Linked DNA regions of Homo sapiens. The protein of the gene in region 1 purifies or fractionates together with the protein of each later gene. This does not show direct contact. Each region holds a gene or a part of one and is shown on either strand. Other genes may lie near its edges.

Region 1 (3,977 bases):
GAGCCCAGGCAACATGGGGAGACCCAGTCTCTACAAAAATACAAAAATTAACGGGTACATATCCAGGTTTGTTATATAGCTAAATGGCATGTCACAGGGTTTGGTGTACAGATTATTCCATCACACAGGTAATAACTGTCGTACCTGATAGGTAGTTTTTTGTTGTTGTTGTTTTAAGACAGAGTCTCGCTCTGTCGCCCAGGGTGGAGTGCAGTGGCGCCATTTCAGTTCACTGCAACCTCTGCCGCCCGGGTTCCAGCAATTCTCCTCCCTCAGCCTCCCAAGCAGCTGGGATTACAGGCGCACACTGCCACACCCGGCTAATTTTTTGTATTTTAGTAGAAACGGGGTTTTACCATGTTGCGCAGGCTGGTCTCGAACTCCTGAGCTCAGGCAATCCACACACCTCGGCCTTCCAAAGTGCTAGGATTACAGGCGTGAGCCACCGCTCCCGACCCTCCTCTCCCTCCTCCTCACCACCACCCTTAAGCAGGCTCTGTTATTTTATTTTATTTTTTTTTGGAGACAGAGTCTTGCTCTGTCACCCAAGTTGGAGTGCAGTGGTGTGATCTCTGCTCACTCCAGCCTCGACTTCTTGGGTTCAGGTGATTCTCCCACCTCAGCCTCCCTAGTAGCTGGGACTACAGGCACCCGCCACCACACGTGGCTAATTTTTCTATTTTTAGTAGAGACGGGATTTCGCCATGTTGGCCAGGATGGTCTTGAACTCCTGACCTGAGGTGATCCACCTGCCTCGGCCTCCCAAAGTGCTGGGATTACAGGTGTGAGCCACTGTGCCTGGCCCTGTTGTTCCCTTCTTTGTGTCCTGCGGTGGCTCACGCCTGTAATCCCAACACTTTGGGAGGCCGAGGCAGGTGGGTCATCTGAGGTCAGGGGTTCCAGACCAGCCCGACCAATATGAGGCAACCCCATCTCTACTAAAAATACAAAAATTAGCCGGGCATAGTGGTGCGAACCTGTAATCCCAGCTACTCAGGAGGCTGAGGCAGGAGAATCTCTTCAACCCAGGAGGCGGAGGTTGCAGTGAGCTGAGATTGCGTCACTGCACTCCGGCCTGGATGACAGAGCGAGACTCTGTCTCCAAAAAAAAAAAAAAAAAAAAAATTGGATAAAAGTTAAAATTCAAGCCAGGCATGGTGGCTCATACCTGTAATCCCAGCACTTTGGGAGGCTGAGGCAGGCAGATAGCTTGAGGTCAGGAGTTCAAGACCAGCCTGGCCAACATGGCAAAACCCTGTCTCTACTAAAAATACAAAAATTAGCTGGGCGTGGTGGCATGTGCCTGTGATCCCAGCTACTGGGGAGGCTGAGGCACGAGAATAACTTGAACCCAGGAGAGGGGGGTGGCAGTGAGCTAAGATCGCACCACTGCACTCCAGCTTGGGCGACAGAGCAAGACTTCATCCTAAAAAAAAAAAAAATTAAAATTCAGTGTCTCTTTACTACCACAGCCACATTTCAGGTGCCCAGTAGACACAGGTAGCTGGGGGCTGCCATACTGGACAACACAGACAGAGAGTGTTGAGGCTGATCTAGACTGCAAGTATCTGCAGTGTATTAGCTACTGTGGCTGTGGTAATAAAGTGCCCCAGCCCGGATGGCTTAAGCAACAGAAATTTATTCTCTCACAGTTATGGAGGCTGGAAGTCCAAGATCGAGGTGTTGTAGGGTTGGTTCCCTCTGAGGACTCTCCTTAGCTTGCAGACGGCCGCCTTCTCCCTGGGTCTCCTCACATCATCTTCCTTCTGTGCAGTTACGTGTCTGTATCTGAATGCCCCCTGCCTTTTCCTTTTTTGATGCAGGTTCTTGCTCTGTTACCCAGGCTGGAGTGCAGTGGCGAGATCTTAGCTTGCTTGCTGCAGCCTCAACCTCCCAGGCTCAACCAATCCTCCCACCTCAGCCTCCTGAGTAGCTGGGATTTCAGGCGCATGCCACCATGCCTGGCTAATTTTTTTTTTTTTTTTTTTTTAAGACAGAGTCTTGCTCTGTCACCCAGGCTGGAGTGCAGTGGCGCTATCTTGGCTCAATGTAAGCTCCGCCTCCCAGGTTCACGCCATTCTCCTGCCTCAGCCTCCCGAGTAGCTGGGACTACAGGCGCCCGCCACCATGCCTGGATAATTTTTGCATTTTTAGTAGAGATGGAGTTTCGCCATGTTAGCCAGGCTGGTCTCGTACTCCTGACCTTAGGTGATCTGCCCACCTCGGCCTCCCAAAGTGCTGGGATTACAGGCGTGAGCCACTGCGCCTGGCCATGCCTGGGTAATTTTTGTATATTTAGTGAAGACGGGATTTCACCATGTTGGCCAGGCTGGTCTCGAGCTCTTGATCTCAAGTGATCAGCTCACCTCCACCTCCCAAATTGCTGGGATTACAGGCATGAGCCGTCAGGCCCGGCCAAATAAAAATACTTTCAACATCAAAAACAAACAAACAAAAACACCAAAGCCAAATACAAACCAAAAAAAGGCCTTTTCTCTAAATAAAGTCACATTCTGAGCTACTGGAGGTTGGCACTTCAACATATGATTTTGGGGAGAGACACGATTGAACCCATAATAGCCAGTCATACCCCATACTAATTAAAAGGCATTTGGTGTTACAGTTACAAACATTGGCATCAAATGGCTGCTCTGTCAGTCACTAGCTGTGTGATCTTGGTCATGTTTGCCCCTCTGTGGAATGGAAAATAAAAAAAATCACATGCCTGTCTCATAACCCAGGTGTCTACAAGCTTTTTCTGTCAAGGGTCAGAGAGTGAATATTTTCCACTTTGTAGACCCCATGGTCTCTGTTGTAGCTACTCCATCACTCTAGTGGGAAAGCAGCCATCGATGTGTGTAAATGAGTGAGGATGTCTGTGTTGCAATAAAACTTTATTTATAAAAGCAATTGGCTGGGTGTAGTGGCTCACACCTATAATCCCAGCACTTTGGGAGGCCAAGGTGGGCGGATCACACAAGGTCAGGAGTTCGAGACCAGCCTGGCCAATATGGTGAAACCCCGTCTCTATAAAAAGTACAAAAATTAGCTGGGCGTGGTGGCGGGTGCCTGTGGTCCCAGCTACTCGGGAGGCTGAAGCAGGAGAATCGCTTGAACCTGGGAGGTGGAGGTTGCAGTGAGCCAAGATCATGCCACTGCACTGCAGCCTGGGCGACAGAGCGAGACTCTGTGTCAAAACAAGACAAAACTAAAAAACAATTGGCCGGCACAGTGGCTCACGCTTGTAATCCCAGCACTTTGGGAGGCAGAGGCAGGCGGATCACCTGAGGTCGGGAGTTCAAGACCAGCCTGGCCAACACGGAGAAACCCCGTCTCTACTAAAAATACAAAATTAGCCGGGCATGGTGGCGCACGCCTGTAATCTCAGCTACTCGGGAGGCTGAAGCAGGAGAATTGCTTGAATCCGGGAGGTGGAGGTTACGGTGAGCTGAGATTGCACCATTGTACTCCAGCCTGGGCAACAAGAGTGAAACTCTGTCTCAAAAAAAAAGGCTGGACGGGGTGGCTCATGCCTGTAATCCCAACACTTTGGGAGGCCGAGACAGGCAGATCACCTGAGGTTGGGAGTTCAAGACCAGCCTGACCAACATGGAGAAACCCCGTCTCTACTAAAAATACAAAATTAACCAGGCATGGTGGTGCATGCCTGTAATCCCAGCTACTTGGGAGGATGAGGCAGAAGAATCGCTAGAACCCGGGAGGCGGAGGTTGCGGTGAGCCGAGATCGTGCCATTGCACTCCAGCCTGGGCAACAAGAGTGAGACTCTGTCTCAAAAAAAAAAAAAAAAATCGTGGGCCATATTTTGTGGCCCCTGTCAAAGGGAGATCTGCACGGTGGGATCAGGACAGGCTTAACCAAAAACATGAAGGAGGGTAAGGGAGTGAGCCATAGGGATATCTGGGGGGTAACAGAGATATAGGCAGAGGGAACAGCCAGTGCAAAGGTCCTGAGGCAG
Region 2 (3,751 bases), on another chromosome or scaffold:
TACACCACCACGCCCGGCTAGTTTTTTGTATTTTTAGTAGAGATGGGGTGGTTTCACCATGTTGTCCAGGCTGGTCTCAAACTCCTAACCTCAGGTGATCTGAGGTCCCAAAGTGCTGGGATTACAGGCGTGAGCTCCCATGCCCGGCCATGTTTAACTTTTAAGTACTGTTAAAATTGTTTTACATGGTAGCTACACCATTTTATATTCCCCACCAGCAATGCACAAGGATTCTAATTTCTCCACCATCTTACCAACACTTTTTATTTACCATTTTTATATTATAGTCACTCTAAGGAGTGTGAAAGTGTACCTCATGGTGGTTTTGACTTGCATTTCCCTATGACTCATGATGTTGAGCATCTTCATGGCTTATTGGCCATTTGTATATCTTCTATGGAGAAACTGCTATTCAAGTTCTTTGCCCATTTTTGAATTGGGTTGTTTGTTTTTTGTTGTTGAGTTGTAGGATTTTTTTTTTTTATGTTCTGGATTTCATCCGTTTTCAGATATATATTGTTTGCAACTTTTTCCCCATTATTTTATTTTATTTATTTATTTTTTTTTTGGAGACAGAATCTTGCTCTGTCGCCACCCAGACTGGAGTGCAGTGGCAGAATGTTGGTTCACTGCAACCTCTGCCTCCCAGGTTCAAGAGATAACTCCTGCCTCAGCCTCCCGAGTAGCTAGGACTACAGGCACACACCATCATGCCTGGTTAGTTTTTGTATTTTTAGTAGAGACAAGGTTTCACCATGTTGGCCTGGCAGGTCTCGAACTCCTGACCTCATGGGATCCACCTGCCTTGGCCTCCCAAAGTATTTTTTCCTTATTCTGTAGGTTATCTTTTTACTCTTTTCATAGTATCCTTTGATGCACAGAAGCTTTTAATTCTGATGTATTATTTTTACTCTTTACTTTTGTTTGTGCTTTTGTGTCATAACCAAGAAATCGCTGCCAAGTCCAATGTCATGAAGCTTTTTCCCTGTGTTTTCTTCTAAGAATTTTTGTGGCACTAGCCCTTAAATTAAGTCTTTGATCCATTGTGAGTTAATTTTTATATGGTATGAAATAAGGGTCCAACTTCATTATTTCATATGTGTATATTCAGTTTTCCCCCATCGAATGCTCTTGGCAACCTTGTCAAAAATCAATTGGCCATTTATAGGAGGGTTTATTCCTAGGCTTTCCATTCTGCCCCACTGGCATATGTGCCTGTCTTTATGCCAGTCCTACGCTGTTTTGAATACTGTAGCTTTGTAGTAAGTTTTGAAATCAGGAAGTGTGAGTCCTACAACCTTGTTCTTTTTAAAGATCATTTTGGCTATTTGGGAAAAACATTAATTTTAAAAAATTACTACTTGTAAGATCTGTGTGAAATTTCTACCTTCTGAAAATATGAATTCTTCTCGTTAAAATTTTCTGGGACTCTATTTCCTGCTGTTCACTAAAGTGTGTATTTATGCTCTTAATTATAGAAAGAGTATTCAAACGAAAATGCAGTTGTGAAGAGAATGCAGTCTCTTCAACTTGATTGTGTGGCAGTACCTTCAAGCCGGTCAAATTCAGGTAAATTACACTATGGTCAAAATCTATTCATTTATTTGTTTGGTTACTCATTCACTCCACTCTCTAAAAGACTATTCAGGACCATATGGGAAACAGAAGAAACTATAAAAGTGAACACCTGCCTTACAGGAATTTATAATAATATTCGAGAGTCAAGTTACATGTATTTGAAATATGAAGTAACAGTGTGCTCACCAGTCATAGAGTGTTCTGAACAAAAGGCCTAATATATCTGATGGGGAGAAGTGACAGTTCAGAAGAAGGAAGGGGACATATGTGAGAGCAAAGTCCCTGAGGAGCTCGGAGTGACTTACAGCCAGGGTACAAGCAGAGAGGCTGGTCTCAGGTCAAGTAGGGATACTTTTTTCACTGTAACAAAAGGGATGGCAGAGTATAGGATACTGAAGCCGCTTAGCTACCTGATCTGTGGCTAATTACTTAACCTCTTCTAAACTTCACTCATCAAATCATAATTGCTCCTCCTCTCATAGGGCTCTTCAAGAATGAAAGAATTCATGGGACATGCTTAGGACAGAGCTGCTGCAGATCTTTTTTTTTTGGAGACAGAGTCTGTCACCCCGGCTGGAGTGCAGTAGTGTGATCTTGGCTCACTACAACCTCCGCCTTTCAGGTTCAAGCGATTCTTCTGCCTCAGCCTCCCAAGCAGCAGGGATTACAGGCATGCACCACCATGCCCGGCTAATTTTTGTATTTTCAGTAGAGATGGGGTTTCGCCATGTTGGCCAGGCTGGTCTCGAACTCCTGACCTCAGGTGATCCGTCCGCCTCAGCCTCCCAACGTGCTAGGATTACAGGCGTGAGCCACCGCACCCAGCCACAGATCTTATTTTCCACCTGAATTGCTCCAAGGAGACAACCACCTTCTCTGCTCCAAACCAAGTCCCTTTTTTCCTTGATCATCCCTGCAACAGCCGCTTTTCTCTTGCTTGCTATAATTTTCCTAGTACTCTCTTACTGCCAGCGAGGAGCTCCTATTATTATTTGTAAAGCTTGTGGGAAGAGGACCATCTCCTAAATGCTTTGGACTGGTCTCGTACTTGTTTTCTGTGTGTTACTTTGAGATACAGATTCATGACGGCGCTCAGATTTTATTTTACTTTTTAATGTTTCATGACACCCATTCTAATGTTGATCATTTCTTCTCAGCCACAGAACAGCCTGGTTCACTGCACAGTTCCCAGGGACTTGGGATGGGTCCTGTGGAGGAGTCCTGGTTTGCTCCTTCCCTGGAGCACCCACAAGAAGAGAATGAGCCCAGCCTGCAGAGTAAACTCCAAGACGAAGCCAACTACCATCTTTATGGCAGCCGCATGGACAGGCAGACGAAACAGCAGCCCAGACAGAATGTGGCTTACAACAGAGAGGAGGAAAGGAGACGCAGGGTCTCCCATGACCCTTTTGCACAGCAAAGACCTTACGAGAATTTTCAGAATACAGAGGGAAAAGGCACTGCTTATTCCAGTGCAGCCAGTCATGGTAATGCAGTGCACCAGCCCTCAGGGCTCACCAGCCAACCTCAAGTACTGTATCAGAACAATGGATTATATAGCTCACATGGCTTTGGAACAAGACCACTGGATCCAGGAACAGCAGGTCCCAGAGTTTGGTACAGGCCAATTCCAAGTCATATGCCTAGTCTGCATAATATCCCAGTGCCTGAGACCAACTATCTAGGAAATACACCCACCATGCCATTCAGCTCCTTGCCACCAACAGGTAAATGGGTCTTCGATAGTCACAAGCTTGTCTTTTTTTATTTTTCAGAAAATACAGCAACCAAGCAGCTCTATTATAGATTGTGGGTTATAATGGGGACAGAGGGCATCATCAGCTGCCAGATGCAAATTGCCCCTGTGGAATGGACCCTGCCAAACCACTTGGTCTGGGAGTATTTCATCTGGGGCTAGGATTCATCACAGATGCCCGCAAGCATCGGGTTACAGGTCCTTGTGACTGGCAGGCATCTTTGACTCTAACCTGGAGTGCATAGTAGTCCTATTTCACCCAATCTCTGATAAATGGGAAGTTATCTGCTTATTTGCTTTTACCTTGCTTGCTACTTTTTGAAGGTAAGAAATCAGTCTTGGATATTTTTGTTTCTGACCTTATATAGCTCAAAGACTACCATTAGTGATGAAAAATTTTCTTTTAACTCCCATATC

Evidence for each region.
Region 2: the proteins of TICAM1 (region 1) and RIPK1 purify together in Homo sapiens (affinity purification with western blotting; 4 studies listed by BioGRID). This does not show direct contact.

Annotation. Positions count from the first base shown.
Region 1 is NC_000019.10:4,821,478-4,825,454, reverse strand, and holds part of TICAM1 (TIR domain-containing adapter molecule 1), read left to right. Parts: intron 1-3,977.
Region 2 is NC_000006.12:3,102,747-3,106,497, forward strand, and holds part of RIPK1 (receptor-interacting serine/threonine-protein kinase 1), read left to right. Parts: intron 1-1,478; coding exon 1,479-1,569; intron 1,570-2,675; exon of another isoform or gene 2,676-2,735; coding exon 2,736-3,305; exon of another isoform or gene 3,306-3,751. UniProt on the Homo sapiens protein: Serine-threonine kinase which is a key regulator of TNF-mediated apoptosis, necroptosis and inflammatory pathways.